Linked DNA regions of Homo sapiens. The protein of the gene in region 3 purifies or fractionates together with the protein of the main gene of each other region. This does not show direct contact. Each region holds a gene or a part of one and is shown on either strand. Other genes may lie near its edges. The genes, in order: DBT, EI24, RALB, EMC2, RAP1GDS1, OCIAD1 and ANKRD13A.

Region 1 (4,160 bases), on a different chromosome or scaffold from region 3:
ATCTTCTGAAGAGTAATACGTTAGCAGGTTTCTTGAAATATAAACTTGTATATTGATAATTGCTCTGTTTGAAGACACACAGGACATTTTAAACATTCACTATTTGTAGTTAGCTTTCAAAATAACTAGTTCTGATTTGTTATTTATAAACTCCTGGAATGATTAACTTCCAGAAGAGTGGCTTTGCAGGAAAGCTGTTAGGGAAATACATGGCTTGCATTCTTTTGAATTTTTTATATAACACAGCATTTAAAGCAGTTACCTGCTATGTTATTGCATTTGCCACTGAGTGTCATGATGCAGTCAGTGTTCCAGCTTTGAAATTAGTGACTTTCAGTGTAATGTAATGAAGAGAGTAGTAAGAGGAAGGGTTTAACTGAGAGAGTAAAAGACATTAGAGAACCTTCCATTTTAGTTTCTTTAAAAAAAAAAAAAAGGATGAAGAGATTTGAGAATTTAAATAAATGAATAACAATTTAATGCTTTTCAGGCTTTCAAAAAGCAATGGTCAAGACTATGTCTGCAGCCCTGAAGATACCTCATTTTGGTTATTGTGATGAGATTGACCTTACTGAACTGGTTAAGCTCCGAGAAGAATTAAAACCCATTGCATTTGCTCGTGGAATTAAACTCTCCTTTATGCCTTTCTTCTTAAAGGTGAGATTCATTCATTTCAAACAAGGCTTGAGTAGGACATTTATTTGTTTGTTTGTCTTTTTGAGACAGAGTTTTGCTCTTGTCACCCAGGCTGGAGTGCAATGGCACAATCTCGGCTCACTGCAACCTCCACCTTCCGGGTTTAAACAATTCTCTTGCCTTAGCCTCCTGAGTAGCTGGGAATACAGGCACCTGCCACCACGCCTGGCTAATTTTGTATTTTTAGTAGACACGTGGTTTCGCCATGTTGGTCAGGCTGGTCTTGAACTCCTGACCTCAGGTGATCCACCCCCGCCCCAGCCTCCCAAAGTGCTGGAATTCCAGGCGTGAGCCACCATACCTGGCCCCAAGTAGGACATTTAAATTTTGCTTTGCCAACATGCAATATGTTGACTGTGGCCTTGAATAAAAATATTACTTTTCGCAACATCAGATAGTTAGAAAATGTGCCATTTCTTTGTTCAATAGGAAATTATAAAATTGAGATTTCTGTACTATATTTTTAGCTGCTTATCTTTGAGCTAGGTAGAGACAATTCTGCCAGTTAAGTAAAGCCTCTGATCCTAAAAGGATCACTCCAACCAAGTCTTGGTTTGAACTAAAATGAGACTTGATATTAATTTTGCAATATCACTGACATATATTTAATATTTATTTTCATTTACTCAACCAACTTATATTGAGGATCCTGGGAATCATTTCTAGTGCTAAGCCTTGGGACCAGTATAAAATGGAGTAAGACCATCAGCTAACCTTGAGCAGCATACAGTCTAGCTCACATTAGTGACTGTGCAGCAGCTACCATGTGCCAGCCTCCATAGTAAGCATGCTGTATACATTATCTCTCTCTTTTTTTTTTTTTTTTTTGGTATGAATCTCATTTATTGAAAAGATTATTTCTCACCTTTCTCAAATTGAAGACTGCAAAAAATAAAAGCAGTGCTTCATTGAGTTGTCATGAGCCTGGGGCAGGAGCAGCAGCGCTGCCTCTCCACGCTCCGGGAAACCGCAGCTGGCGTGTGCCACATCGGTCCCACCTCGCTTTACAAAACAGTCCTGAAGCTTAATCAAATAAAACTATTGAACACAACATTTACATTAGAAAAAGAGAGCTGGGTGTAGGAAAGGCCGAGCCTGGTGTTCCCTTTAAGCGAAGGTGGCTCCACAGTTGGGGCATCTTCGCTCCCTCAAGGCAAAACAGCAAATGAACCCAAAGGGGAACAGGATGATGGCCAGGAAGATGCCCAGGAAGGTGAAGCAGTCCTGCAGCCCCCCGACCCTGCAGACGGGACAGCCTCCCACGACCACGATAGAGTTGGTAGGATAGCGGATGACGGTCCAGCTGTGGATGTTGTAGACCCTGGGATGGTGGGTGGGTGTCCGTGTGACGAGGTAGGAGTAGGGCGGCTGCGGGGGCGCGGCGGGGATGGCGCCGTAGCCGTGCGGGCCTCACGCGTAGTCGCCCTGGCCGGCCTCCAGGTTGTAGGCGGGCGGCCGCTCCTGCAGCAGAGTCTTGTGGTCCATGGCGGCCCGGCTCGGCTCTGTCGGCCCCGGCGGGGACGCGGCGCACGCCCCGGGTGGCTCGGGCCCCTCTGAGGCAGACGCGGGGCAGGGCCCATTATCTCTTAATTCTCAGAGTAACCCTGACATGTAAATATTACTGTCTCCACTTTCCATTTAAGGAAATTGGGGCTCAGAGAGGTTGAGAAACTTGTTAAGGACTTACAGCTAACAGGTGGAGAAGCTCTTTCAGGTTCTGGTCTGTTTTACTCAGAAGGACATACTGATGTCTGTAATGCCAACATGTCCAGTCCTTTCTCTACACTGCACCAAGACTGGTCTTCCGTAAATCAAATTACTGTAATATTCTCTGATTCTTTTCAGTGGTTCCCTTTCATTACCTTCAGGATAATTTGTATGCCATACTCCTTAGTGTGGCATACAAATGTGTTATAAGTCTCTGCTGCCTGCCTCTCCATTCTTACCTCACTCCCTCATATTAAGGTACCCATAATTGCTGGAATACACAATTCCACCTGAAGTGCCCGTTCTTCTCGATCAAACACCTGCAAATCCCAAACTGTGGTCAGGTACAGACTCCTTCTGTGGCTGTCACTATTTGAATTAAATACTTTTGTTTCCCACTGTTAACTTATCTCAGTGCATTGAGTGCTTACTCAGTTTTCTCTTCACTTACTCACTTACTGGGCGCTGAGCCTCATGAGGCAGAAACTATTCTTCTTTATCTCCCTTTTTCTTTCTTTCTTCTTTTTTTTTTTAGAAAGGGTTCACTTTGTTGCCCAGGCTGCTGGAGTGCAGTGGCACAATCACAGCTCACTGCAACCTTGAACTCCTGGGTTCAAGTGATCCTCTGCCTCAGCCTCCCGAGAAGCTGGAACCACAGGTGTGCACCACCACACCTGGCTAATTTTTTTTTATTCTTAGTAGAGATGTGTCTCGCAGTGCTGCCCAGGCTGGTCTTACAGGGATGAGCCAGCATGCCTGGCTATTTTGTTTTAAAATAAAACATAAGTTTCAGAACATTCGAAAAAATACTACACAGTATTGTAGAGGGGGAACAAATGACCTAATCCATTGACACATACCTTGTATTTTCTTGGACAAAATTTGGATTATACTCAAATATTTTTATATGTAACAGTTTAGACTAACCTTAGGGGTTTTTAGATAAAGACTATTAAAATTACAGTTATTGAATCAAATGCTTACTAAAACTTTCAAGTTGGCTGGGCGCAGTGTCTCACGACTGTAATCCCAACACTTTAGGAGGCCAAGGCAGGCAGATTGCTTGAGCTCAGGAGTTCAAGACCAGCCTGGGCAACATGGTGAAACCCCATCTCTACAAAAAATACAAAAGTTACCTGGGCATGGTGGCACACGCCTATAGTTCCAGCTACTCGGGAGGCTGAGGCAGGAGGGTCACTCGAGCCAAGGACGTTGAGGCTACAGTGAGCTGAGATCATGCCACTGCACTGCAGCCTAGGTGACAAAGAAAGACCCTGTCTCAAAAACAAACAAGAAAAACTTCCAAGTCATAAAAATTAAGGAACTCGTAGCAGTTCTTTTAATTATATTTTTCTTCAGTTGATCTACTCTCTTAACCTGTCCTAACTAATGAAAATGAAATGTCTCTATATATTTAAACTTTTTTCTTAACTCTCTAGTTCAAGAATTTGATTTTTTTCCCATCAAGACCCCGATGCACTGAGAAGAATAACACAATGCATGTAAAGAACTTTAACAGGGACCAGACAAGGGCAGTGGGGGAGGGAATTCTTTTTAAGAATGATCTTAAGCATTTTTATTTTGCTATCTTTTAAATTCAATACAATGCATGGCCACCACATGTAAGGTATGAAACTTGATTATTAGATCCCAAAAACAGATTATCAAGAACATTTTGGGTACAGTTAGGGAAATCTGAATATGGACAGGAGAGAAATGGTATTAAGTGACAAAAGGGAGAAGGCAGCAGAGAGGGA
Region 2 (4,160 bases), on a different chromosome or scaffold from region 3:
CTTAAACTTTACTGTGCCCGAGGGCTCTGTATGACTGAAGCATGTATTTAGTAATTTTTGTAAGAACTTTTATCTTGCTCTTGTATTTTCATTCAAGTATTTGAAGGTATCCAGCAAACATAAAAATTGCTTAAGAAGATATTGAAATGTAATTATCTTCCATCTCCAAACCCTCAAAAGTGCTTAGAATGTGTAGGAGGGATAGTTAGGGGCATTGAGGCTCAGAGGAGGTTACTGGTCAAGAGCACATTGTAAAAATGTAAAATGTAAAAATGAGAGGGTGTAAAATGTAAAACCCCTTGTAAAAATGAAAGGGTGGTGAGTGTTTTAGAAAAAAAATAGGGATTTTAGGTTTCAGCTGTACAGGAATAGCTTCACTTGATTCACTCTATTAGTGCTAGAATCTACTGCTATCTTACTAGAGCTACAAGTATGTGAGGTCATCATGTGGAAATGTGCATGAAGTAACTTATCTTTAAAATAAATATTTGCCTCCATTATGTTCCATCTGTTTCCAGATCCTTCATGATGAGAGATTTGGGGACACTTCTCTCTCCTGTGTGTAGTTGATAGTTTGGTGGTGAAGAGATGGCTGACAGTGTCAAAACCTTTCTCCAGGACCTTGCCAGAGTGAGTACATCTTGTTTATAGGAATTCATCTCTCGGCCTTTTTTTTTTTTGCTGAAGGAACCATCTAGGAAATCCTTTAGGGTTTTTGGAACTTTTATCATATTTCTTGGGTTCTTTACATAAAGGTTGTTATTCTAGACCACACTACTCAAGAAATAGGTATTGTTCTACATCTTGCAGACAGTCTTGCAGGTGCTTGGAAGACCTCTTCGGTGGATGTCTCCAGTATTGGGACCCTAATCATCTTGGCTTCAGAGCTTTTTTTTTTTTTTTTTTTAACTTTTTATTTTGGAATGTGTTTAGATTTACAGAAAAGTTATAAGGTAGTACAGAGAGTTCCTGTATGTCCTTCATCAGCTTCCCTTAATGTTAACATATAACCGTGGTATATTTGTCAACTAAGAAATGAACATTGGTTCAGTACTATCACCTAAACTAATTAATTCAGATTTAAATTAGAGAACCTATCTTTTTTTTTTCCCAATTTTTCATTTATTTAAAAATTTTTCTGTTAAAAGTAGAGACGAAGTTTTGGCATGTTGCCCAGGCTGGTCTCAAACTCCTGGGCTCAAGTGATCCACCCGCCTTGTCCTCCCAAAGTGCCGGGATTATAGGAGTGAGCCACTGCACCTGCCAGAACCTTTTTTCTCCCCATTCTACAAGCTGTGCACGTGAGGAGGATACTCTAGGAAAATGCCCTATAAAGATCTGGTTAGGACCCAGTCATCCAAATTACCAATAGCACAAAAGTCTGCTACTTTTAATGTATGTCTGAAGCCTAATAATGTCTCACTTGTAACCCCCTCTTATATTTCCACTAGCATGAAAGAGGCCAATTCTTGGAGTGGGGAGGTTCTTTCTTTAGTGGAAGAGTTTAAAAGGTTACCTTTATGGCCAGGGGAGGTGGCTCACAGCTGTAATCTCAGCACTTTGGGAGACCAAGGAGGCAGGATTGCTTGAGTCTGGGAGTATGAAGCAGTAGTGAACTATGATGGTACCAGTGCACTATAGCAGGGCAAGAAAGTAAAAAGGTTATTACTTTTGAGTAAAAGAGGGAGGATTGAAAGAGTATCTTAGAAGGTCTAAAAAGACTTTATGCATATGATCTCCTTTTTTTTTTTTTTTTTTTTTTGACAGAGTCTCACTGTGTCGCCCAGGCTGGAGGGCAGTGGTGCAATCTCGGCTCACTGCAACCTCCACTTCTTGGGTTCCAGTGATTCTCCTGCCTCAACCTCCCAGGTAGCTGGGATTACAAGCACACACCACCACGCCTGGCTAATTTTTATATTTTTAGTAGAGACGGAGTTTCACCATGTTGGCCAGGCTGGTCTTGAACTCCTGACCTCAGGTGATCTGCCCACCTTAGCCTCCCAAAGTGCTAGGATTACAGGCATGAGCCACCGTGCCCAGCAGCATATGATCTACTTTTAACATCTTTACCTTGTTGTCTTGCCATTCATGTGCTGTAAAATTTCAACCCTCCCAGCCTGGCTAACACAGCAAAACCCCCTCTCTACTAAAAATACAAAAAAGATTTAGCCAGGCGTGGTGCACATGCCTATAATCCCAGCTACTCAGGAGGCTGAGGCAGGAGAATCGTTTGAACCTGGGAGGTAGAGGTTGCAATGAGCCAAGATCATGCCACTGCACTCCAGCCTGGGCGACAGAGTAAGACTCTGTTTAAAAAAAAAAAAAAATTCAACCCTGTGTTGGTTCTACAGTGTGCTATTTACATGTTTGTCTGCCCCACTGGACTGTAGATGTCTTAGAGGTGGGGATCCTATCATCCTAGCATGTACTAGGCCCTCAGCCATTTGAACTTAACTATCTTAGATAGTTGGAGTTTCCTGAGTTAAAAGCAAAATTAAGAGTAAAAATTACTCAGACAAAAAAAGATCAAAGGCACACTGTGCCAATTTATGTTCCTGTTAACAGATAATACATCAACTTGCCCATTTCTCTGTATTCCAGCTATTATTTCTAAAATTCGTTTTGTCTGATAACAGTAGACGAGAATGCTATCCATTCTTAAATCCAGCTTGGCCATTGCTTCCAGAATAATTTTTTCTGCCTTCTCATGAAGTTGAATGCCCCAGTGCTAACACTCTACTTGGGCCATACATCTGTTGTGGCACTTACTAAACTATGTGTGCTTGCTTCTGCAGCACATGTACTAAAATTGGAACAATACAGAGATTACCATGGCTCCTGTGCATGACACACAAATTCATGAAATGTTTCATATTTAAAAACTTTTTTAAAAAAAAACCTTTAATGTAATTTTTTGGTTTACTTGTGTGCTTTTCCTACTAAGTTATAAGCTTCTTGAGCATTTCTATATGACAATATATAGCTTATTGAAGATACTCAGTACGTGGGTGGGAGATGGATGCATGAGTGAATTCTTAGCCTTTGGGAGGCTTAGGCAGGAGGATTGCTTGAGGACAGGAGTATGAAACCAGCCTGATCAACATGGTGAGATCCCCATCGCTACAGAAGAAAAATTTAAAAGCCAGGTGTGGTGGTGCACATCTGTACTCATAGCTCTTTGGGAGGCTGAGGCAGGAGGATCATTTGAACCCAGGAGTTGGAGGCTGCAGTGAGCTATGATTGAGTCACTGCACTGTAGCTTGGGTGACAAAGCAAGACCCTGTCTCAAATAATAATAATAATAATGATAGCCTTTTCTATAGGGAATCAAAGACTCCATCTGGGGTATTTGTACCATCTCAAAGCTAGATGCTCGAATCCAGCAAAAGAGAGAGGAGCAGCGTCGAAGAAGGGCAAGTAGTGTCTTGGCACAGAGAAGAGCCCAGAGTATAGAGCGGAAGCAAGAGAGGTAAGGAGTGCATGCCTGATATCAAAATGTCCAAGGGAGGGAAGACCTTACATAGTGACTTGATGTTTCAGTGCCATTTTATTTCTTTTGTGCTTTTTCCCAGAAAAATGTTGCAAGTGATTTCCCCCCAACAACATTGACTTAAACTAGGGTCTAACAATAATCCTTGCTAAAAATGTCATGGTGTTAAATCAGAAAGCTGAATAGAGAATCGCAAAATATTATTTGGTTTGATAGATACTTCTAGGGAAGCCTGTGTGGATTTATGTATTAATAGAAGAACCCTGGCCCCACACTTTCTCTTAATCTTTTCCATCATCAGACTTTAGAAAATAAATTATTTTTCTTTTAAAAGCTGGTTCCATATATATACACATTTTTTTTTTTTTTTGAGACGGATTCTTGCCCTGTCACCAAGCTGTCACCTGAGATTGCCGTGGTGCAATCTCAGCTTACTGCAGCCTCTGCCTCCCAGGTCCAAGCAATTCTTCTGCCTCAGCGAACCGGCTGGCTGGAAGTACAGGTGCGCACCACCACGCCTGGCTAATTTTTTATATTCTTTAGTGGAGACAGGGTTTTGCCATGTTGGCCAGGCTGGTCTCGAACTCCTGACCTCAGTTGATCGCCTACCACGGCCTCCCAAAGTGTTAGGATTACAGCCGTGAGCCACTGCGCTTGACCATTTTTTTAG
Region 3 (4,160 bases):
TGTAAATACACCAATCAGCACCCTGTGTTTAGCTCAAGGTTTGTGAGTGCACCAATCGACACTCTGTATCTAGCTGCTCTGGTGAGGACGTGGAGAGTCTTTACGTCTAGCTCAGGGATTGTAAATACACCAATCAGCACCCTGTGTTTAGCTCAAGGTTTGTGAATGCACCAATTGACACTCTGTATCTAGCTGCTCTGGTGGGGCCCTGGAGAACCTGTGTGTGGAAACTCTGTATCTAACTAATCTGATGGGGACGTGGAGAACCTTTGTATCTAGCTCAGGGATTGTAAACGCACCAATCAGCGCCCTGACAAAACAGGCCATTCGGCTCTACCAATCAGCAGGATGTGGGTGGGGCCAGATAAGAGAATAAAAGCAGGCTGCCCGAGCCAGCATTGGCAACTCGCTGGGGTCCCTTTCTACGCTGTGGAAGCTTTGTTCTTTCACTCTTTGCAATAAATCTTGCTACTGCTCACTCTTTGGGTCCACGCTGCTTTTATGAGCTGTAACACTCACCGCGAAGATCTGCAGCTTCACTCCCGAGCCCAGCAAGACCACGAGCCCACCGGGAGGAACGAACAACTCCAGACGCGCTACCTTAAGAGCTGTAACACTCACCGCGAAGGTCTGCAGCTTCACTCCTGAGCCAGCGAGACCACGAACCCACCAGAAGGAAGAAACTCCGAACACATCTGAACATCAGAAGGGACAGACTCCAGACGTGCCACCTTAAGAGCTGTAACACTCACCGCGAGGGTCCGCGGCTTCATTCTTGAAGTCAGTGAGCCCAAGAACCCACCAATTCCGGACACGCTAGTATCCGTATCGTTACCAAAGCCAGGGACCTGGAAGTCATTTTTGACTCCCATTGCCTCTCCCCAGCTCAATTCATGACCATTTCTAGCTATTCCATCTCCAACATACATTTCAAAGCCATGCACTTCTTCCATCTTCTCTGCCACCATTCATTCAACAGCCCCAGCTTCCTAAGTGACCCCTCATTACCACTCCAGCCCCTCTTCAATCTGTTCTCCACACAGCCCTTCCAATGGGGCTTCTAACACTGCACATGAAACTGTGCTTAACGCTCCTTAAAGGCTCACCATGAGCGGCAGCTAAACCCTCCACTGGCCGTGGCCTCCGTGGCCTTTTCCTTGCCTTCTTCCAGCCCTGTGAATGTGCCAAGCGCTTTCCTACCTAGGACTCCTCCACACTCCCCCACCCCCAATCACGCGTGCCTGCACACACACACACTGCATTCAGGAAGGCCTGAAGCAAGAGGAAGCAAAGTCCACTCAAGAAACTCGAGAAAGACCTTCACAGCTATCTGCAGCAGAGAGAAAGAGGCAGAGCCCAGTACAAGATGACACTGAGGAGGTAAGGAAGGGCGGGATCATTCAAGACCCCAGTGTAGGCCAAGTTGAGGGATTTGGGACCTTTGACTGAAAGCACTGGAAAGCCACTGAAGTGTTTCAAGTCAATGGGTAACATAATTAGGCTTGAATGTTGAAAAGGTAATTCTGGCTACAGAGTAGAAAAACAGAGGGGTCAAGAGCAGATGTGGGTATGCACCAGGCCAGGCCGGCAACACGGTGGGGACTAAGGAGACAACAATGCACATGAGGAAAGTGACTAAATTTTAGGGCTACTTAGGATGTTAAAAAATGGCAGTGTTTACTACATGAACACATATAATTTGAGATTTTTAAAAGGTTTGCCATGCAAGTATTACTAGAGGTAACACATTGGCTAAAATTCATTCCTAACAATAGCATCAGCTATCAGCAGTAAAGGACTGGCCACCAATCCTTCCTGTGGGAGGAAGGAGGGGGATTACAAGGAAAGTAGAATGAAAGAAAAGAAAGATACTAGCTCATAAATTAGGGCAGAGGATGGGCAAGGGGCCAAAAATAGGAAGCAGAGGAAGTGCAAATAGTGCTGACTTTTCAACTCTGCCTAACAGTGACTCTAACAACCTTCAACTGGATTGGGAAGAACAAAAGCTATTCTCAGAAAAGCTTGTCTTCTGAGGTTGCAATTTAACATGATCAATGAAATATTTTGTTATAAATATGCACAACTCAAAGGATATTCGTTATAAAAAAAAAATAAGGATCATAGAATTTTCAGAGATGGAAGGGACTTAGAGGTCATTTAGCCAGGCTCAGGCTCAGGATCCAGAAACTCTTCTCTCCACCTATAGGCACTTCAGGAAGATTTCATCTGGAGCTAAAAGAATAGCGCCCTTCTATCCAGGTCAATAATTAAAATGTATGAGGGTCTCAAAAGTGAACTGAAGAACTGCTAGGCAAACAAGCAGTATCCAAAGTTTTAAAATAATGGGGAGGAGTAAGAGGGTTTAGGTTCCCCAAAATTTTTCAGCTACTTTGCCAATGAGTTTTATTTTTAAGAACACACAGATAATGAATGACTAATTTTAAGCCATTCATCAAAGGAGATTACTTTGGCAATATTTTTTTACCAACTTGTTTTGGGGTTAAAGAAAAAAATTCAGATGTTCCTTTTGGTTTAGGGACCAGCAAGATCTGAATTTCTATTTCCAAAGCTACTGCATACTTGGCTAATTCCAGCATCTAACAAAGAACCGGAAGAAAGAACATAAAAGTTTCACATATAGTATTAAAGCTTCTACAATACTAAAGACCTCAGCTGTCTTTCCATCTCCTACAGTATACTTCAGTAAACATCTGAAAGAAAGATTTTCTCAATGATGTCTGGACTAAACCTTAAAAAAGTTGTGGTGGCTAGCCTCCAAGAATACTGATGTGCCCTGACCTCCCCTCTTGTAGTCCTTTCCCACATTGTGCCAGGTCTGGTCTGAATGCTGGTAGAAGGGATGGTATGCCATCTCCAAGATTAGACACTGGATTAGTCTGTTCTCATGCTGCTATGAAGAAATATCCGAGACTGGGTAATTTATAAAGGAAAGGGGTTTAATTGACTCACAGTTCCGCAGGGCTGGGGAGGCCTCAGGAAACTTACAATCATGGCAGAAGGAACCACTTCACAGGGCAGCAGGAGAGAGAATGAGTGCCAGCAGGGGAAATGCCAGACGCTTGTAAAACCATCAGATCACGTGAGAACTCACTATCAGGAGAACAGTATGGGAGAAACTGCCCTCATGATTCAATTACCTCCCACCGAGTCCCTCCCACAACGTATGGGGATTATGGGGATTACAATTCAAGGTGAGATTTGGGTAGGGACACAGCCAAACCATATCAGCCACGAATATACTGCTGCTTCCATCTTGATCATTATCATATTCATTCTCTCCCTCTCTCCCCACCCCCGTCAGATCACTTGCTCTGGGGAGAAAAGCTATGTTGTGAAAAGCCCTGTGCATAGGCCCACATGGTGTAGAACTGAGGCCTCCAGCCAACAGCCATGTGAACGTGCCATTTTGGAAACAGATCCTCTGGTCCCAGTCGAGCTTCAGATGACTGCAACCTCAGGAGAGACCATGAGCCAGAAGCACCCAGCCAAGCTGTCCCCAGATTTCAACTTCAGAAACTGTGTGAGATCATAAATGTCTGTTGTTTTAAGCTGCTAAGTTTGGGGAAATTTGTTATGCAGCAACAGAAAACTCATTCAAAAGGTAGGCAAACTTTACAGGCAGCCAGGCACGCAGGACCAAACTACTATATTTCCTTCATCTCATGCCGTATAGCTTGGAACAATGCTATATATAAAAAATGCCCACAAAGCACTGACAAAAGCAACAATGAAAACAATATATTGGTAATTATCAATTAATGGCATTTTTCTTTTCTGCATTTAGATTTCAACTAAAAAACAACTAGCCACCATCACCAAAAACAAAAACAGCCAGGAGAACACTAAGGAAAATTATAAGCAGCTACTTTTTTTAAAGTGACAAACTTGAAATTGAGACCTGGCTAGAATTTTGCAATTGCTTCTAGTAAGCACATATACCGTCCCTCTTTGACACTCACTTCCACATCCTCTTCATCTTTCTTTCCACTGTCACCTATCCAAGACTCATCAACCCTCTTGCCTACTGGCCCCTCTGCTTTTTGGAATATCTAAGAATATATGTACACATACACCAATATTTATATTCCTAGGTACCAAAAGAACTGAGGAGCTAAAGGAGACAGCCCATGGTCAAATCT
Region 4 (4,160 bases), on a different chromosome or scaffold from region 3:
GAATAATCAAGAATGTTGAATGCTCTAGGATCTTGCTTATTGGATGTTTAATGTTTTTGTTAGCTTTTTTATTGCTGTAGTGACAGGAGGAAATCCCAGTGTGAGAGGATTAGTCCAGAGTCTTAGTGCAAGTTTTCTAATATTACAGCATTAATGCTAACCTCCATCTAGAGGCGTGTTTTTTATTTTTTTTCTTAGTTCTTCTAAATCTGAAGTATATGACATTGTTTCTTTTCCTTCTTTTTGACAGAATAGAATCAGATTCTCATGCGCATTTTCTTGTGCATGAATATTTAACCTTGTTCTCATACTACAAACAACTGATGAGAAACAGAATGAAGACATTTGTCTATTGTCTGTGGTCTATATATATAATGTGATCTAGAGGATTGAGGTAGTCTATTTGCATAAGTCTAAGGAAAGTGGGAGCTAAAATAAAAGTAATAGCTGTAATTTAATGAATGTATACTATATTCTAGGAACTGTTTTTCAAGTTCTCTGCTATACTCTGAAACAGATATTCTGGTTTTGATTAGGAAATTATTTCCTGAATCACATTCAGTATAGATGATATGCTTGTATGTACACATATGTAAACATACTCATGATTTCTTACACATGTGAAACAGTATATAATACTTATATTTAAATACATGAAATTGAATTTTTAGAGTATAGTAAAAATAATTAGCATTAATTTTATTTTGTTTCTAAAACAGGTGACAGTCATTTAACATTTTTTGTACTTTCTAAAGATTTTCTGACTAAAAGCATTTTAAAACATTTCAAATCAACAAGGAAATTTTTTTTTTCAAGTTAAAGGAATACCTAATGCAGAAAATTTGAGAAACACAGTAAAGCATAAAGACCAAGACAAAAATTACATGTAATTCCAGCATCCTAAGTTAACTATAGTTTGTTTGGTTTTTGTCCTTCCTTATCTTTTAAAATAAAAGCCCAAAATAAAATTATCTTCCGTAGTTTATACTTTCCCTTAGTTATATTTTGTTCAAAAATTTCTTGTCACTGTAACAATCTACAGTGTGTTTTGAATGGCTTTATATTATTTCATCTTACTAATTTACCCTAGTATTTTTAACGAGTTTCCTAGGGAGATATAAAGGTTGTTTTATATTTTTATATATAATGCTGTAGTGATCATTTTTATTTTGTTTCCTTGGGTTAAATTCTTTGAAGTAAAATTGCTTGATTAAATAAGATGTACATTTTCTGTGGTTTTGATAAATAGTTCCTGATTGTTCCCTAGAATGGTAACATCAATTTACTTGCACACCAGCATTTACTAGAGTCCCTCTTTAACAACACTGGATACTATGATTCTTTTTTAATCTTTACAAGTTTGATAGGTGAAATTGGTTCTACCTTTTTAGTTCATTTTTACGAGCTCTTTTTATAAAGGAGAGCAACCATTTGTCAAAAGTATATCCTTGTTATATGCTTTTTAAATACTGACTTCTTAAAATTATAGAAACTTTACATTTTTAGAAAATCAGATTCATCAATTTTTAACATTATCATGTCTGCTGTCCTTTAATAGCTTAAAAATATATCACCTTTTCCCCCTACTTCATTTGCAATTTTATTTTTTTGCATGTATTTCTAATATTTATTTCATCATCAAATTTAGGTTATACCTTATTTTTAACCTACCATTAAATTTACTTATTTTTTTCACCATGTGGTACCACCTTCAGTTTTGCTTTGTTTGGAATCTAAAGAGTTTATTGAAACAGAGGTGAATGTACACTTAAGAGAAATGAACTGAGAAATCTCAAAAAATGAAGATTTACAAAGATGTAGGAGCACCTAAAAATATTTTTTTAGAGAAAATGATAATTATGGTCAGCCTACCCTTTTATCTAGTATCACAAAACTCTTTTTGGTCTTAAAGCTAGTTAGTTACAAAATGACCATTTTTTTTTTCTAATTGAACACTTAGAAGGAATATTTATGTTTAGGTGACTGGAAATGCATATCTACAGGTTTTTTTGAAACTGTGAAAATTACAATCAGTTCACTTGATTCATTTGACATGTTTGAGCAAGTCATTATAGGAGGCAGGAATTTTTTGATGGAATGTTAAATTATCGTAGGATATCAGTTTTAGCACCAGTCTTGGGGACACAGTGGCAAAAACGTAGCAGTTTCGAAAATGTCAGATATATTTAACATTCGATATTCCTTTCTGCATATGAACAGTTGTAAGCTTTTTTAAGTATAATAGGTCGCAGGCAGCTTTGGTAGCCTATATCTAGAACTATTTTTTTTCTTTAAGAGACAGAGTCTACAACATTTCCCAGGCTAGACTTGAGCTCCTGGGCTAAAGTACTCTTCCCACCTCAGCCTTTTGTGTAGCTGGCACTACAGGTGTGTCACTGTGCCCAGCTCTGGAATTTTTAAACTCCAAATAAATATCTATAGTATAATTTTCATATAGCCCTATTTAATGTTTCTATAGAGAGAAAAAGGGATATAGAATTGTGCCATGTAACCTTTTTATATTTTTAAGTTACTTTTATAAGTTTGTTTCTGATTTATAGTTTGTTTTTAGTTATTCCAGGGATATATGTTACATCCATTGACCATATTGAGACACTTGTTCTAAAGTTTTAAAACTACAGTTAATTTTTTTGTGTCAGCACTACCAATATGTATTATAGGTTAAGTATCCATAACCTGAAAATCTGAAATCCACAATACTCCAAAATCTGAAACTTTGAGTGCCAACATGATGCTCAAAGGAAATGCTCATTGGAGCATTTTGGATTTGGGATTTTTGCGTTAGGGATGTTCAACCAGTAAGAATGCAGATATTTTAAAATCTGAAAACTTCTGAAATCTGAAACATTTCTGGTCCCAAGCATTTTGGTTAAGGGATACCCAACCTTTGTAAGCAAAAATACATTCACATTATGAAAGACAAATTTTTTTACTTCATTTGTTATTGAAACTAGATACTATACAGCAAGGAACAGTTAGTATTATACATTAATTATGATTGTGATTATAGTTCCTTTTCATAAGTCCAGCCTTTTAAAATTCCATATCAACGGAATTACCACAATTCTTTAAGGAAAAATTGTGATGTTGGTAAAGTAACACACAGTACCAAATACTGTAACCTTTAGTTATATATACTTTTGTAAGGAAGAGAAGAAAACTTTATTTAGTTCTAGTACTGACTCTAATATTGTAATAACAATTGTTATTCTGTTTTAAGTAGATTCAAATTATTTTTACTTCTCTATTCTTAGTCTTGTTGAGTCACTGTGTGTAATGAATTAACTTCTCTATGCACCTAGAATAGTACTGGCTATGTATTATCCCTGACAAGACTGAGGAAATAGTCACTTTCTGCGTGGCCTAACAATGGCCTAGAAAAGCTGGACTAGACCATCTGTTGAGCTCCTTCTAGCTCTAATTTTATTTAATTCTATATTTTATCCACAAAATTAGTTTGATACTGTACTTTATAAAATTGGGGGAAGGAGTCCTTTTCTCATATGTGATGCTAATTGATTTTTGAGAAAATATCTTGGTATTCATTTTACCCTAAGAGCTGCTACTACCTGCCCATTTTATCTTGCTTTATGCACCAGTGTCACAGTTGTGCTCAACCCATTTAAATGTCTAAGAACTTTTATTCTTAGTCTCAATATGAATTTTTGGCATCATACTATTAATAATTAAAGGAACACATTTAGAAGAGAACTGTCTTTTGATAAAGTGTTTAAGGTAGAGACAAATTTTCCCTTTTCTTTTCGAGTGATAAATATATATTAGGTAGGTAGTCATAACACATTTGTTTTAGACATTTATTCAATCATTTGTTCAGTCTTATTAAATACCTATCATGTGTCAAGAACCAATGCTAGGTTTTGAATTTAAAAATGGAAAGGGCTAAATAGCTGCATGATCTTGGATGAGAGTACACACACACACACACACACACATACATATATATATGTGGTCCTTCATAAATCTAAAATGCTGTAATTATTAGGTAATCTGCAGGGTGTATTTTTTTTCCTCAGTCCCTTTGGGTGTGACTGCTGTACACATTTTCATGTTACCATTGACATCTTCAGTTTTTCAATGTGATGTGTAATGCATATAAGCAGCATATGTAGTGGTTGAAG
Region 5 (4,160 bases), on a different chromosome or scaffold from region 3:
AAATGAAGGAAGGGGTTTGTTATCAGAAACAGAAATGCAGAGATAGGCTTCCTGAGTTGTTGGCAATGAATTTCTTGATCTAGGTGATAGATACATGGTTATTTGCTTTCTAATAATATATTAAACTTAACTTGGATATTTTATGCACTTCTCTGCATTTGTGGTTTTCTTTCACTCTTTAAAAAAAGTTTTAAAATACCTATATATGATGCATACATGATACATACAAGTGTACATTCATACATATGTGTGTAAACAGTGGTGATAAAGATACTTGTCCTTGGACAGAATGGTTTTGGTAAATGTGCTGGGCTGTCTGCTTTGGCAGAATGTCTTGCTAATCCTAATTAAGGTAGTTTAAGCCTCCTATATATTTGTTTTCAGGTATTTGATTTCAGTCAAATTGTGAGAAGAGATTATCTGTAAACTTTAACATTGAGACATTTAGGCTGGGAGTGATGGCTTACGCCTGTAATTCCAGCACTTTCAGAGGCCAAGGCAGAAGGATTGCTTGAGCCAGGAGTTCAAGACCAACCTGGGCAACACAGCAAGACCCTGTCTCAAAAAAAAAAATTAATTAAAATTTTAAAACTACAATATTGACACATTTAAAATTTCTTAAATGTCTTAGGTCCTATTTCTTAGGGAGAAATTTGTTTTTTATCTCATTGGTGTTTTGGCAAAGTAAAAATTTTACTGTGACCTTCAGTCAATTTTAGGCCATAAAATAACCTATAACTTTCCTTGCAGTATTTCAAAATAACAATGTGTTGATATTTATTACTGTTTTCCCCTCTGCCTTCACATCTGTTTTATAATTGCACAATGGATAGGATGATACCATTGAAGGCTTGTTTTTGGACTAATTCTTTGCATGTATCATCCTTCATTTTCCCAGTACACGAAGGAGAGTGATTTCAGCATTAGAAGTTGGGATTTGTATAGTTCAAGGATTTTAGTATTTTTAAGGCTTTTTCATCATAGTTTTTAATTCTAGTCACCACACATCTCTAGCCCTAGCATTCTGTAACCAAGGAAACGCCCTACTTTTAGCATGGCACAGTACAAGTGTACCTTTTAAAGAAATATTCCAGGTTGAATACTCTGTGTATTCTGAGATAATATTCAAAAGAAGATCAGTGATCCTAGTGATTCAAAAAAGCCAAATTTTAACACATTAAAATTGCCTGAAAGTCTTAAGTATTTATTTTTAAAAGTCTTTATTTTTCCTAAATGATAAGCTGAAGCTGCCATTGCCATATATGGATGCATATACAGCTTAGGGAAACCAATGACTAAAATAAAATCCAACTGAAAAAATAAAGTTTAAATTTAAAAATTTCTGGCCAGGTACAGTGGCTCATGCCTGTAATCCTAGCACTTTGGGAGGCCAAGGCAGGAAGATTGCTTGAGGCCATGAGTTCAAGACCAGCCTAGGCAACATAGTGAGACCCTGTCTCTACAAAAAAAGTTTAAAAATTAGCCAGGCATGGTGGCATGCACTTTTAGTCCCAGCTACTCAGGAGGCTGAGATAGGAGGATTGCTTGAGCCCAGGAGTTCAAGGATGCAGTGAGCTATGATCATACCACTGCGCTCCAGCCTGGGCAACGGAGCGAGACACTGTCTCTTAAACAAAAAATCTGTGTTGCAAATGTATTTTTCAGGTGAGTTGACTAGCATTTATCTTAAGGAGTATCAACTACACTCAAAGCATTTAGATAGGCCAGTTTAGGTTAAGATACAAAGATGAGTAAGGTGTATCTATTGGGGGAACCAGCCCCCAATATTTCAATGTATGTTCTATTTTCCCTAAATGTCGGCCCATCTGAGAAATAGAGAAAGAGTACAAAAAGAGGAATTCTACAGCTGGGCCTCCAGGGGTGACATCACATATCGGTAGGTCCGTGATGTCCCCTGAGCCACAAAACCAGGAAGTTTTTATTAGGGATTTCAAAAGGGGAGGGAGTGTACAGGGAGTAGGTCACAAAGATCACGTGCTTTACAGGGCAATAAAGATCACAAGGCAAGGGCAAAGCAAAGATCACAAGGCAAAGGGCAAAATTAGAATTACTGATGAGGGTCTATGTTTGGCTGTGCACGTATTATCTTGATAAACACCTTAAACAACAGAAAACAGCGTTCGAGAGCAGAGAACCGGTCTGACCTCAAACTTACCAGGGCGGGATCTTTTCCGCACCCTAATAAGCCTGAGGGTACTGCAGGAGACCAGGGCGTATTTCAGTCCTTATCTCAACCGCATAAGACAGATACTCCCAGAGCGGCCATTTATAGACCTCCCCCCAGGAATGCAATTCCTTCCCCAGGGTATTACTATTTTTTTTTTTATTATACTTTAAGTTTTAGGGTACATGTACACATTGTGCAGGTTAGTTACATATGTATACATGTGCCATGCTGGTGCGCTGCACCCACTAACTCGTCATCTAGCATTAGGTATATCTCCCAATGCTATCCCTCCCCGCTCCCCCCACCCCACCACAGTCCCCAGAGTGTGATATTCCCCTTCCAGTGTCCATGTGATCTCATCGTTCAATTCCCACCTATGAGTGAGAATATGCAGTGTTTGGTTTTTGTTCTTGCGATAGTTTACTGAGAATGATGATTTCCAATTTCATCCATGTCACTACAAAGGACATGAACTCATCATTTTTTATGGCTGCATAGTATTCCATGGTGTATATGTGCCACATTTTCTTAATCCAGTCTATCATTGTTGGACATTTGGGTTGGTTCCAAGTCTTTGCTATTGTGAATAATGCCGCAATAAACATACATGTGCATGTGTCTTTATAGCAGCATGATTTATAGTCATTTGGGTATATACCCAGTAATGGGATGGCTGGGTCAAATGGAATTTCTAGTTCTAGATCCCTGAGGAATCGCCACACTGACTTCCACAATGGTGGAACTAGTTTACAGTCCCACCAACAGTGTAAAAGTGTTCCTATTTCTCCACATCCTCTCCAGCACCTGTTGTTTCCTGACTTTTTAATGATTGCCATTCTAACTGGTGTGAGATGGTATCTCATGTGGTTTTGATTTGCATTTCTCTGATGGCCAGTGATGATGAGCATTTTTTCATGTGTTTTTTGGCTGCATAAATGTCTTCTTTTGAGAAGTGTGTGTTCATGTCCTTCGCCCACTTTTTGATGGGGTTGTTTTTTTCTTGTAAATTTGTTTGAGTTCATTGTAGATTCTGGATATTAGCCCTTTGTCAGATGAGTAGGTTGCGAAAATTTTCTCCCATTTTGTAGGTTGCCTGTTCACTCTGATGGTAGTTTCTTTTGCTGTGCAGAAGCTCTTTAGTTTAATTAGATCCCATTTGTCAATTTTGTCTTTTGTTGCCATTGCTTTTGGTGTTTTGGACATGAAGTCCTTGCCCATGCCTATGTCCTGAATGGTAATGCCTAGGTTTTCTTCTAGGGTTTTTATGGTTTTAGGTCTAACATTTAAATCTTTAATCCATCTTGAATTGATTTTTGTCTAAGGTGTAAGGAAGGGATCCAGTTTCAGCTTTCTACATATGGCTAGCCAGTTTTCCCAGCACCATTTATTAAGTAGGGAATCCTTTCCCCATTGCTTGTTTTTCTCAGGTTTGTCAAAGATCAGATAGTTGTAGATATGCGGCATTATTTCTGAGGGCTCTGTTCTGTTCCAATGATCTATATCTCTGTTTTGGTACCAGTACCATGCTGTTTTGGTTACTGTAGCCTTGTAGTATAGTTTGAAGTCAGGTAGTGTGATGCCTCCAGCTTTGTTCTTTTGGCTTAGGATTGACTTGGCGATGCGGGCTCTTTCTTGGTTCCATATGAACTTTAAAGTAGTTTTTTCCAATTCTGTGAAGAAAGTCATTGGTAGCTTTATGGGGATGGCATTGAATCTGTAAATTACCTTGGGTAGTATGGCCATTTTCACGATATTGATTCTTCCTACCCATGAGCATGGAATGTTCTTCCATTTGTTTGTATCCTCTTTTATTTCCTTGAGCAGTGGTTTGTAGTTCTCCTTGAAGAGGTCCTTCACATCCCTTGTAAGTTGGATTCCTAGGTATTTTATTCTCTTTGAAGCAATTGTGAATAGGAATTCACTCATGATTTGGCTCTCTGTTTGTCTGTTGTTGGTGTATAAGAATGCTTGT
Region 6 (4,160 bases), on a different chromosome or scaffold from region 3:
GGTGGGCTGATTACTTGAACCAAGGAGATCGAGACCAGCCTGGGCAACTTGGCGAAACCTCATCTCTACAAAAAAAAAAAAAAAAAAGAAAAAAGACAAAAAATTAGCCAGGCATGGCGGTGCATGCCTGTAGTCCCAACCACTTGGGAGGCTGAAGCAGGAGGATCATCTGAGCCGGCAGGTTGAGGCTGCAGTGAGATGAGATTGTACCACTGCATTCCAGCCTTGGTGATAGAGTGAGACTTTGTCTAAAAACATAAAATAAGATAAAATGGTTAAGAAATCAAAGGAAAAGAATATTTCATTACGTGTGAAATTACATGAAATTCATATGTTTGCATCTAAAAATAAAGTTTTGTTGGAACACAGCTACGTTCATGTGTTTTTGGATTGTCTTTCGGTGCTTTTGCTTTAAAACGGCAATTGAGTAACTGGGACAGAGATTGGCCCACAAAACCCAAAATATTTACCATCTGGCTCTTCATAGAACGTGTTTGCCAACCTCAGGTCTGGAACAGCACTGTCCAGTGTGGCAGCCAGTAGTCACATGTAGCAATTTAACTTTAAAATAACTTGCAGTGAAAGGATATAAAGCAAAATCATAAAAGGAAAGGGAGCATGGGGTGAAGTCCGGCGGAAACCAGGTCCCAAGAGTTCTCTTCCCAGGGAGTGTAAATTTCTCCAACAGCTAGTCATAACAATGTGTGAAGTTGTATCTACCCGGGGAACTCATTAGAGACTCAGTGCCCACAGTTTTTATTGGGGGCTGGTCACTTATTCACCCTCTGCCTAACAGGTACCAAAATTCCAGACTCCTAGAATGAAAGCAGATGTTTGGCATGAACTGTATTTGTACAAACAGTTTGGGCACAGTGAGCCAATTACGCATATCAATGGGGGGAACTGTTTACCAGTCAAGTACCAAGACCAAATTGATCACAGGGTTGGTCACTCAAAGACCAACTTCCATTATCATAAAAAATTCTGTTAGACAGTGCTGGTGTAAAGAACAGTGATTCATAGCTGTTTTTAAGTTATAGCCCCCTTTGAGATTATGAGTTTTGGATTTTTCACTCTCGGTTTTAGGCATATATATATATAGATGTAATATTTTCATATAGTTTAAGGAGTTCACTAGTTTAGAAGAAAGAACATAAGTGTTTAAAATATGTGCTTTTTAATTTTTGCCCCAGCCACCGTATGATTACGGTCAAATATGTTTTGTATTTTGGTTTAGATGGTATACTAGAGCTTAAAAGCTTGAGATCTGGTATCAGACAGATTTTATTAGAATCTGTAACCAACCATTCAACTAGTTGTTTGGCCTTGAGCAAATTACTTAACATCTCTAAGCTTCAGTTTCCTTATCTTTAAAAGGGTGGTAATAACATTATCTACCTTATAGAAATATGATAAAAAGTATAATAAATGAGATAATGCACATAAGGCGCTTAGCATGATGCACAGAATTTAGTCATTACTCAGTAGTGGTTCTTACTTGTAACTTGTTTCTTACCTCTCCTTCATTAACTTTTTCCCCTTCTCTTACTTCAGAAGTAATTTTGAGTCACTTTTACTGTGTTGTCTTAGTTGATGCTGTTGATGAACAGCTGGCTATTTGGAACCTAAGCCTAGATGGTTCATGAATTATATTGTTTAATATTTTGTGATGTTTTCTTAAATTTAAAATGCTCCTTTAATTTTTCCACTATGTATACAGTACAGCTTTTAAAAATGGAACAGTCTTTTTTAAAGGTCTTAGTTATGCAATATAATTCCTAGATGGTTTTACTGCTATTCATTTATCTAATGAACTTTAGACAAAATCTTTTACTTTTGTTGATGTTAACAAGGTCTTTTTCTTCCTATAGCTGTGCCTTTGGCTGCAACAAGTATGTTGATTACTCAAGGATTAATTAGTAAAGGTAAATATTTAAAATTTGAATTTATTTAGCATTTTGGATACCATGTTTGTTTTGTGGTATTTTCCAGGTCTTTAGAAAAAGTAAAGATAACAATGTATCATATTAAACACTATGTAGAAATTCATTGATGAATTTAAACGTTTTATCTCTGTGGACCCACTGGCTCAAATATCATGACTTGAGAATTTCTCCTGCACTAATAGCATCATTAACAATCTGCAAGAGCAAGAAGGTAACTAAACACCAGTATTAGCAGGGCAAACCTGGTCTAGGTGGGCCAATAGCAACATTATTGCCTAGGAGCTTGTTAGAATGCACATTCATGGGGACCAGGAGTCTGTGTTTTAACAAATTCGAAGTGATTCTTATATAATGATTTAAAGATCAGTAGCTCTCTAAACCAGCTTTGTCTGATCACCTGGGGCGGATGAGTGGCGGTGAGTTAGCATTATTTAAAAAATCAGAATCTCAGGGGTCTGGCAGGTGATCTATTTTTAACGAGCCACCGAGGAGACTTTCTTGTCCTAAAGTCTATTGGCTCAAATAGTACAGTAGTGGAATTGAGTTTAGATTGAGTATTAAATGTCTTGAGTCCTGCATTTAAAATGTAGTGGAGTAAGCAGTAGAGTTGCTTAATTCCTTTACTTCATGAACTATCTATCTGGTAATGGGAAGGTGTCCCAGAAAAGGATGGTGACCTTAGGATGGCCTGGAGGCCTATTGTTTTAATTAACTGGCTCCTTCAAAAATGTGACTTAATGATTGGAAGATTTAGCCTTTTCACATTAGGATATGATGTATGGTACTTAGTTTTGACACAATTAGTTGATAAAAGTAGTTTTGGAGGCAAATGAGAGGATTTTTGGGGTAAAAATTTATTTAAGGAACTTCTGAAGAACTTCATTACAATACAGTACCATGACAAAAATCTTAAACATAGAAGCGAGTCAAGATGTATGCACTTATATGTCCTTAAGACTAAGCTGTTTTATAGACTGAGATTGGTTCTGTATTGTGAAACAACAACAACAACAACAACAAAACAAAAAAAACCCCACTTGAATTACATTCTTTGTAGGAAAAACTGGCACAGGGATGAAATTACAGTGTTTATTATTGTTCTGCTTCTTTTATCTATTTTAATCCAGTGTGTCATTTAATAATGATTGGAGCTAGGTATGCAGAAGGTTACACAAAAGAATTTAATAGCTGCTAGTAGTTCACTGGAGGAAACAAATGGATGTGAACATATGTTGAAGCAAATAGAAAATTTAATTACATACTTAATAAGCTACTAAATTGTATAGTAGAGACTCTAAGAGTTGTAGGTGTTCAAAGAAGAAAGATCTTTGTAGGGCTGTTGTAATCAAGGAAAGTTTCTTGAAAGAAGTGGGTTTTGAAGGATGGGCAGGATTTAGATTAAATGAGAAGAAAGAACATACCAGGAAGGAGGGACCTGATGATGAAGACAAATAGGCATAACTATTGGGAGAGGCAATCAGGACTGAACTGAAGAGACAAAATCATGCAGGGAGGAGTGAAAAATCCATTAAATAGCTGAAGTAGAGCCAGGAGAAATTATAATTTGGATTAGGTTATGAAGAGGAGGAAGTTTTTTAGAGATTTTGGGTTTAGGTGCAGTTGAAGACTTTGGGCTACTTGAGGGTACGGTAGAAGTGATATTGGGAGGCCGAGTCGGGTGCATCACAAGGTTAGGAAATCGAGACCGTCCTGGCCAACATGATAAAACCCCATCTCTACTAAAAATACAAAAAAATTAGCCGGGCGTGGTCGTGCGTGCCTGTAGTCCCAGCTACTCAGGAGACTGAGGCAGGAGAATCGCTTGAACCCAGGTGGCGGAGGCTGCAGTGAGCTGAGATGGCGCCACTGCACTCTAGCCTGGGCAACAGAGCGAGACTCTGTCTCAAAAAAAAGGTAAAAATTGAGAGAGACTTTAAGAAAAGAATTTGGAATCCACCAAGACATTTTGCATTTAATCAAAATCCCTGACATTTTGTACAGTGGTCCTTTTGTGTCTGTGTGGATTGGTTCCAGGACCCTCCAGAGGATACCAAAATCCACAAAAGCTTAAGTCTCTGATATAAAACGGCCTAGTAAAGTTTACGTGCATATCTGCCTGTATACTGTAAATCATCTCTAGATTACTTATAATACCTAAGACTATGTAAACACTATGTAAATAGTTGTTATACTGTATTGTTTAGGGAATAATGA
Region 7 (4,160 bases), on a different chromosome or scaffold from region 3:
TTGATTGTTATAATTTTGAGCCTTTCTTTTTTTTCTAATGTACAACATTTTTGCAAAAAGTTGGAGTGGAAATGTAATGAACTCAGACACTGGACGGTTGCCTTTTGTTTCAGCTTCCCACATCACAAACTTTGAGGTTGATCAATCTGTGTTTGAAATTCCCGAATCTTACTATGTTCAAGACAATGGCAGAAATGTGCATTTGCAAGATGAAGATTACGAGATAATGCAGTTTGCCATCCAGCAAAGTCTGCTGGAGTCCAGCAGGAGCCAGGTGTGTTTATCAGAATACTCTAATGGCAGGGCGTGGGAGGTCTTACCCTCTGGGTTAGCCTCAGTGTTTGGCTAATCTGAAAGATTTATTCTAAATATCAAGTTTGACACATTCATGGTATTTGCATAGGTTATACTTTGTGCATCTGGTCTTCTTACAAAAGCTTGTTATGTAAGAGACCATCTACATAATCCCAGTCAGCACCATTCACAAGATGTCTTCAGGCAGACTTTCCTTTTCCTCATATTCACGCACATAGCTTGTAATTCTGTACTTTTTGAGATGTGCTTCATCATTTTCTAGCACTGAAGCAGTATCATATTTTTCCTGAAGGATTACCTGTGTGTCAGTAGTCTCGGATGAAGGTAGTGAAGTGGATTTGAATCCCACTTCCTCCACAAAGGGTACCATCTCCCTAAACTCTCTCTGGGTCTCTAGTGAAACAGAAAATGAAGGACAGGACAGACCTGTGTAAGCAGTAGGCTTTGTGTGTGTGTGTGTGACTCTATGTTGCCCAAGTCGGAGTGCAGTGGCTGTTCCCCGGCATGATCATATTGCACCCTCAAACTCCTGGGTTCAAGAGATCCTCCCACCTCAGCCTCCCAAGTAGCTGGGACTAAAGTCATGCACCACTGTGCCCAGTAGAACAGTTGCCTTTTATTGTCATATCTGGTTCTCCCTCCATGCCTCACCTACCTGGGACAGTCCAAGGCTTGAGGTCCTCCTCCCCTAACATCAACTCCTTCCATCTCCTTCCTTCTGTGCCTCCTGGCTCTACTAGGGTAGGGTCTGGTCTGCCTCCAGCACCCTCTGGTGTGTCCTGGGTTCCTGCAGTCCATTTATTTGTTAATTGGCTTTTTCTTCCATTCTTCATTCAGATATTTGCAGAGTACCTTCTTTGTGCCAGGCTCTGTGCCAGGTGCTGGGAATTCTCTGGGAAGCAGCCCCTGCCCTCACAGGGCTGCTGCTTTGAGAACAGTGCTCACACTCCAGCGTCCTCACTGGTTCAAGCTTATAGCTTTCTGGTTCTATTCCTGAGTCTTAGTGCTTGTGTAATGTGAGTCTACCTCCTCCACTTCCCCCTGCCACCACCATGGCCCCATTCCCAGACCCATTCAGTTTTCCGAGCCAGACCCCAAAGCAAGCATGTTCCCTTTGGGAGGCATCCTGGGAGAAGACCCCTGCACATCACCATCAGCCTGGTATGCTTTTCCTTTCCCTATGTAAGTGAGCTTAGCTCCCCCCGCCAGCTCCCAAGTAGCTTCATAAACCTTGTTGACCATAAGTTTTAACAAGGGAAGTAGCCAAAGTCAAAGACTACCAGTATTGAATTGTGTCTTCTAATCTTGCCCTAGAAGAATTACTGGCTGGGTGCAGTGGCTCATGCCTATAATCCCAGCACTTTGGGAAGCCAAGATGGGAGGACTGATTGAGCCCAGGAGTCTGAGACCAGCCTGGGCAACATAGTGAGATCCTATATCTACCAAATTTTTTTTTTTTTTTAATTTTTGAGGCAGAGTCTCACTCTTTTGCTCAGGCTGCAGTGCAGGGGCACAATATTGGCTCACTGCAGCCTCTGCCTCCCAGGTTCAAGTGATTCTCATGCCTCACCCTCCCGAGTAGCTGGGATTACAGGTGCGCACCACCAGACCCAGCTAGTTTTTGTGTTTTTAGTAGAGACGGGGTTTTACCATGTTGTCCAGGCTGATCCCAAACTCCAGACCTCAAGTGATCCACCAGCCTTGCCCTCCCAAAGTGCTGGGATTAGAGGTGTGAGCCACCATGCCTAGCCTCTACCAAAAAATTTTAAAAGCCAAGTATGGTGGTGTGCACCTGTATTCCCAACTAGTCAGGAGGCTTAGGTGGGAGGATTTCTTGTGCCCTGGGGTCAAGGCTGCAGTGAGCTACGATCACATCACTACCCTTGAGCCTGGACAACAGAGTGCGACCCTGTCTCTAAAAAAACAAAAACCTGCTTTGGTCACTTGAACTTTGCCCAAGGTCAGCTGTGTTTTTGCTTTTCGTTGTGTATATCTTCCACGTGGGTTAGCTGTATTTAAGAGACTGATTTTGTACAAAGGATGAGAAGGTTGTGGCTGTGAGTTAGGCTGTGGCATGTTACTACCTCCCACTTAGGTGTTGTTTTTGAGGTAACCCAAGTCCCTGTTAGCTTTTCACACAGCACTATTGATAATGGTCATGGAAAGACTTTTAATTTGGTTCTTGCTGCCATCGTTTCCTTACCAGAATGGCACCAATTTCTCCTAAGACGTATTCATGTCTATCACATTTGTCTTTGCCAGGAACTTTCAGGACCAGCTTCGAATGGAGGGATCAGCCAGACAAACACCTATGACGCCCAGTATGAGAGGTGATTGACTGACGTGACTCTGGAATAAACCAGGGTGAACACAGGCCTGGACACAGGCGAGCAGACGCGTGGCACTGTGCATTTGGTCCTCAGGCAGATGTACGGTGCCACAAACTGGCAGGAAAGACTAGAAAAAGTAGGCCAGGAGCGGTGGCTCACGCCTATAATCCCAGCATTTTGGGAGGCCGAGGCAGGCGGATCACGAGGTCAGAAGATTGAGACCATCCTGGCTAACACGGTGAAACCCTGTCTCTCCTAAAAAAAATACAAAAAATTAGCCGGGCATGGTGCCAGGCACCTGTAGTCTCAGCTACTCGGGAGGCTGAGGCAGGAGAATGGCAAACCCAGGAGGCGGAGCTTGCAGTGAGCCGAGATCGCGCCACTGCACTCCAGCCTGGGCGATAGAGCGAGACTCCGTCTCAAAAAAAAAAAAGACTAAAGTGTTGGCTCTCTTGCTTCCTCTTGTGGCAGTTACTTATAATAACTCTAGACTCTTGATAGCAAGTTTCCAGGAATGGGTGATAGAATTGCTGACTGGTTCACAGGTCAGTGCCATTGGGGGAAACGTACTGAGTCAGTTTTTTCTGATTGGTTTGATCTTCTATGAATGATGTATGATCACAGGGCCTAGATGTCCTCAGTGGGAAGTTTATATAATTGTAAAGATAAGGAAGTTTGGAGGAACAGCTCCAGAGATTACGGGAAAAACCGCGAGGATTCATTTTACGAAGACTTATACTTAAGGTGTCTATGAGAGCCTGTTGATGAAGAACCTGAGTTTTGCTTTAAAACAGATCCAAGTTCAATTCCCAGCCCTATCACTTACTGGTTGGGTGGTCTTGGGCAAGATTGTGGGGTTTCTCACCCGTATACAACACCTACACCGCCAGTTATGTGGGATTAATTGGCATCATGCATATTAAATGCCTGGCACAGTGTGCCCTTGGTAAGCGGTTAAGAAATGTAGTTACTGCTGCCACCATGATGATGATAGTAGTGACTCTCCCTTTTTATCTGTTTTCCAACCCAGGGCCATCCAGGAGAGCCTCCTCACCAGCACAGAAGGCCTGTGCCCCAGCGCCCTGAGCGAGACAAGCCGTTTTGATAATGACTTGCAGCTAGCCATGGAGCTCTCTGCCAAAGAGCTGGAGGAATGGGAGCTCCGGCTCCAGGAGGAAGAGGCTGAGCTCCAGCAAGTCTTACAGCTGTCACTCACTGACAAATAGACCTTTCAGCCTGTGAGCCTCTGCACAAAGCAGAGGCTGTGGGCTGTCACAGATGCTGTGTCAACCAGGGCCCTAGGGCTAAGGGCCTGCACCTTGCGTGCATGCAGCAGGCAACAACTGCCCCTTCTTTATGCAGAGGTGCAGAACCAGGGACTCCTGGGCCCATCCAGGCTGCTCCCTGGGGTGGAGAAGGGACCAGGGATTGCAGGCCCCATCTCCAGGCTAAGGGGAGGAGAGCATCATCACTTTCCATTAGCTGTATTGGCTTGCAGGTCACATTTTTACTACC

Evidence for each region.
Region 1: the proteins of RALB (region 3) and DBT purify together in Homo sapiens (affinity purification with mass spectrometry; 2 studies listed by BioGRID and IntAct, with this or other methods). This does not show direct contact.
Region 2: the proteins of RALB (region 3) and EI24 purify together in Homo sapiens (affinity purification with mass spectrometry; one large-scale study listed by BioGRID and IntAct). This does not show direct contact.
Region 4: the proteins of RALB (region 3) and EMC2 purify together in Homo sapiens (affinity purification with mass spectrometry; one large-scale study listed by BioGRID and IntAct). This does not show direct contact.
Region 5: the proteins of RALB (region 3) and RAP1GDS1 purify together in Homo sapiens (co-immunoprecipitation; 2 studies listed by BioGRID and IntAct, with this or other methods). This does not show direct contact.
Region 6: the proteins of RALB (region 3) and OCIAD1 purify together in Homo sapiens (affinity purification with mass spectrometry; one large-scale study listed by BioGRID and IntAct). This does not show direct contact.
Region 7: the proteins of RALB (region 3) and ANKRD13A purify together in Homo sapiens (affinity purification with mass spectrometry; 2 studies listed by BioGRID and IntAct, with this or other methods). This does not show direct contact.

The regions. Positions count from the first base shown.
Region 1 is NC_000001.11:100,211,314-100,215,473, reverse strand, and holds part of DBT (lipoamide acyltransferase component of branched-chain alpha-keto acid dehydrogenase complex, mitochondrial isoform 1 precursor), read left to right. Parts: intron 1-490; coding exon 491-657; intron 658-1,523; exon of another isoform or gene 1,524-2,251; intron 2,252-4,160. UniProt on the Homo sapiens protein: The branched-chain alpha-keto dehydrogenase complex catalyzes the overall conversion of alpha-keto acids to acyl-CoA and CO(2).
Region 2 is NC_000011.10:125,571,940-125,576,099, forward strand, and holds part of EI24 (etoposide-induced protein 2.4 homolog), read left to right. Parts: intron 1-518; 5' UTR 519-588; coding exon 589-630; intron 631-1,516; exon of another isoform or gene 1,517-1,635; intron 1,636-3,323; coding exon 3,324-3,469; intron 3,470-4,160. UniProt on the Homo sapiens protein: Acts as a negative growth regulator via p53-mediated apoptosis pathway. Regulates formation of degradative autolysosomes during autophagy.
Region 3 is NC_000002.12:120,255,464-120,259,623, reverse strand, and holds part of RALB (ras-related protein Ral-B), read right to left. Parts: intron 1-4,160. UniProt on the Homo sapiens protein: Multifunctional GTPase involved in a variety of cellular processes including gene expression, cell migration, cell proliferation, oncogenic transformation and membrane trafficking.
Region 4 is NC_000008.11:108,470,604-108,474,763, forward strand, and holds part of EMC2 (ER membrane protein complex subunit 2), read left to right. Parts: intron 1-250; coding exon of another isoform or gene 251-380; exon of another isoform or gene 381-560; intron 561-4,160. UniProt on the Homo sapiens protein: Part of the endoplasmic reticulum membrane protein complex (EMC) that enables the energy-independent insertion into endoplasmic reticulum membranes of newly synthesized membrane proteins.
Region 5 is NC_000004.12:98,410,887-98,415,046, forward strand, and holds part of RAP1GDS1 (rap1 GTPase-GDP dissociation stimulator 1), read left to right. Parts: intron 1-4,160. UniProt on the Homo sapiens protein: Acts as a GEF (guanine nucleotide exchange factor) for the Rho family of small GTP-binding proteins (G proteins) that stimulates the dissociation of GDP to enable subsequent binding of GTP.
Region 6 is NC_000004.12:48,840,765-48,844,924, forward strand, and holds part of OCIAD1 (OCIA domain-containing protein 1), read left to right. Parts: intron 1-1,871; coding exon 1,872-1,925; intron 1,926-4,160. UniProt on the Homo sapiens protein: Maintains stem cell potency. Increases STAT3 phosphorylation and controls ERK phosphorylation. May act as a scaffold, increasing STAT3 recruitment onto endosomes. Involved in integrin-mediated cancer cell adhesion and colony formation in ovarian cancer.
Region 7 is NC_000012.12:110,033,684-110,037,843, forward strand, and holds part of ANKRD13A (ankyrin repeat domain-containing protein 13A), read left to right. Parts: intron 1-113; coding exon 114-274; intron 275-2,577; coding exon 2,578-2,645; intron 2,646-3,675; coding exon 3,676-3,871; 3' UTR 3,872-4,160. UniProt on the Homo sapiens protein: Ubiquitin-binding protein that specifically recognizes and binds 'Lys-63'-linked ubiquitin. Does not bind 'Lys-48'-linked ubiquitin.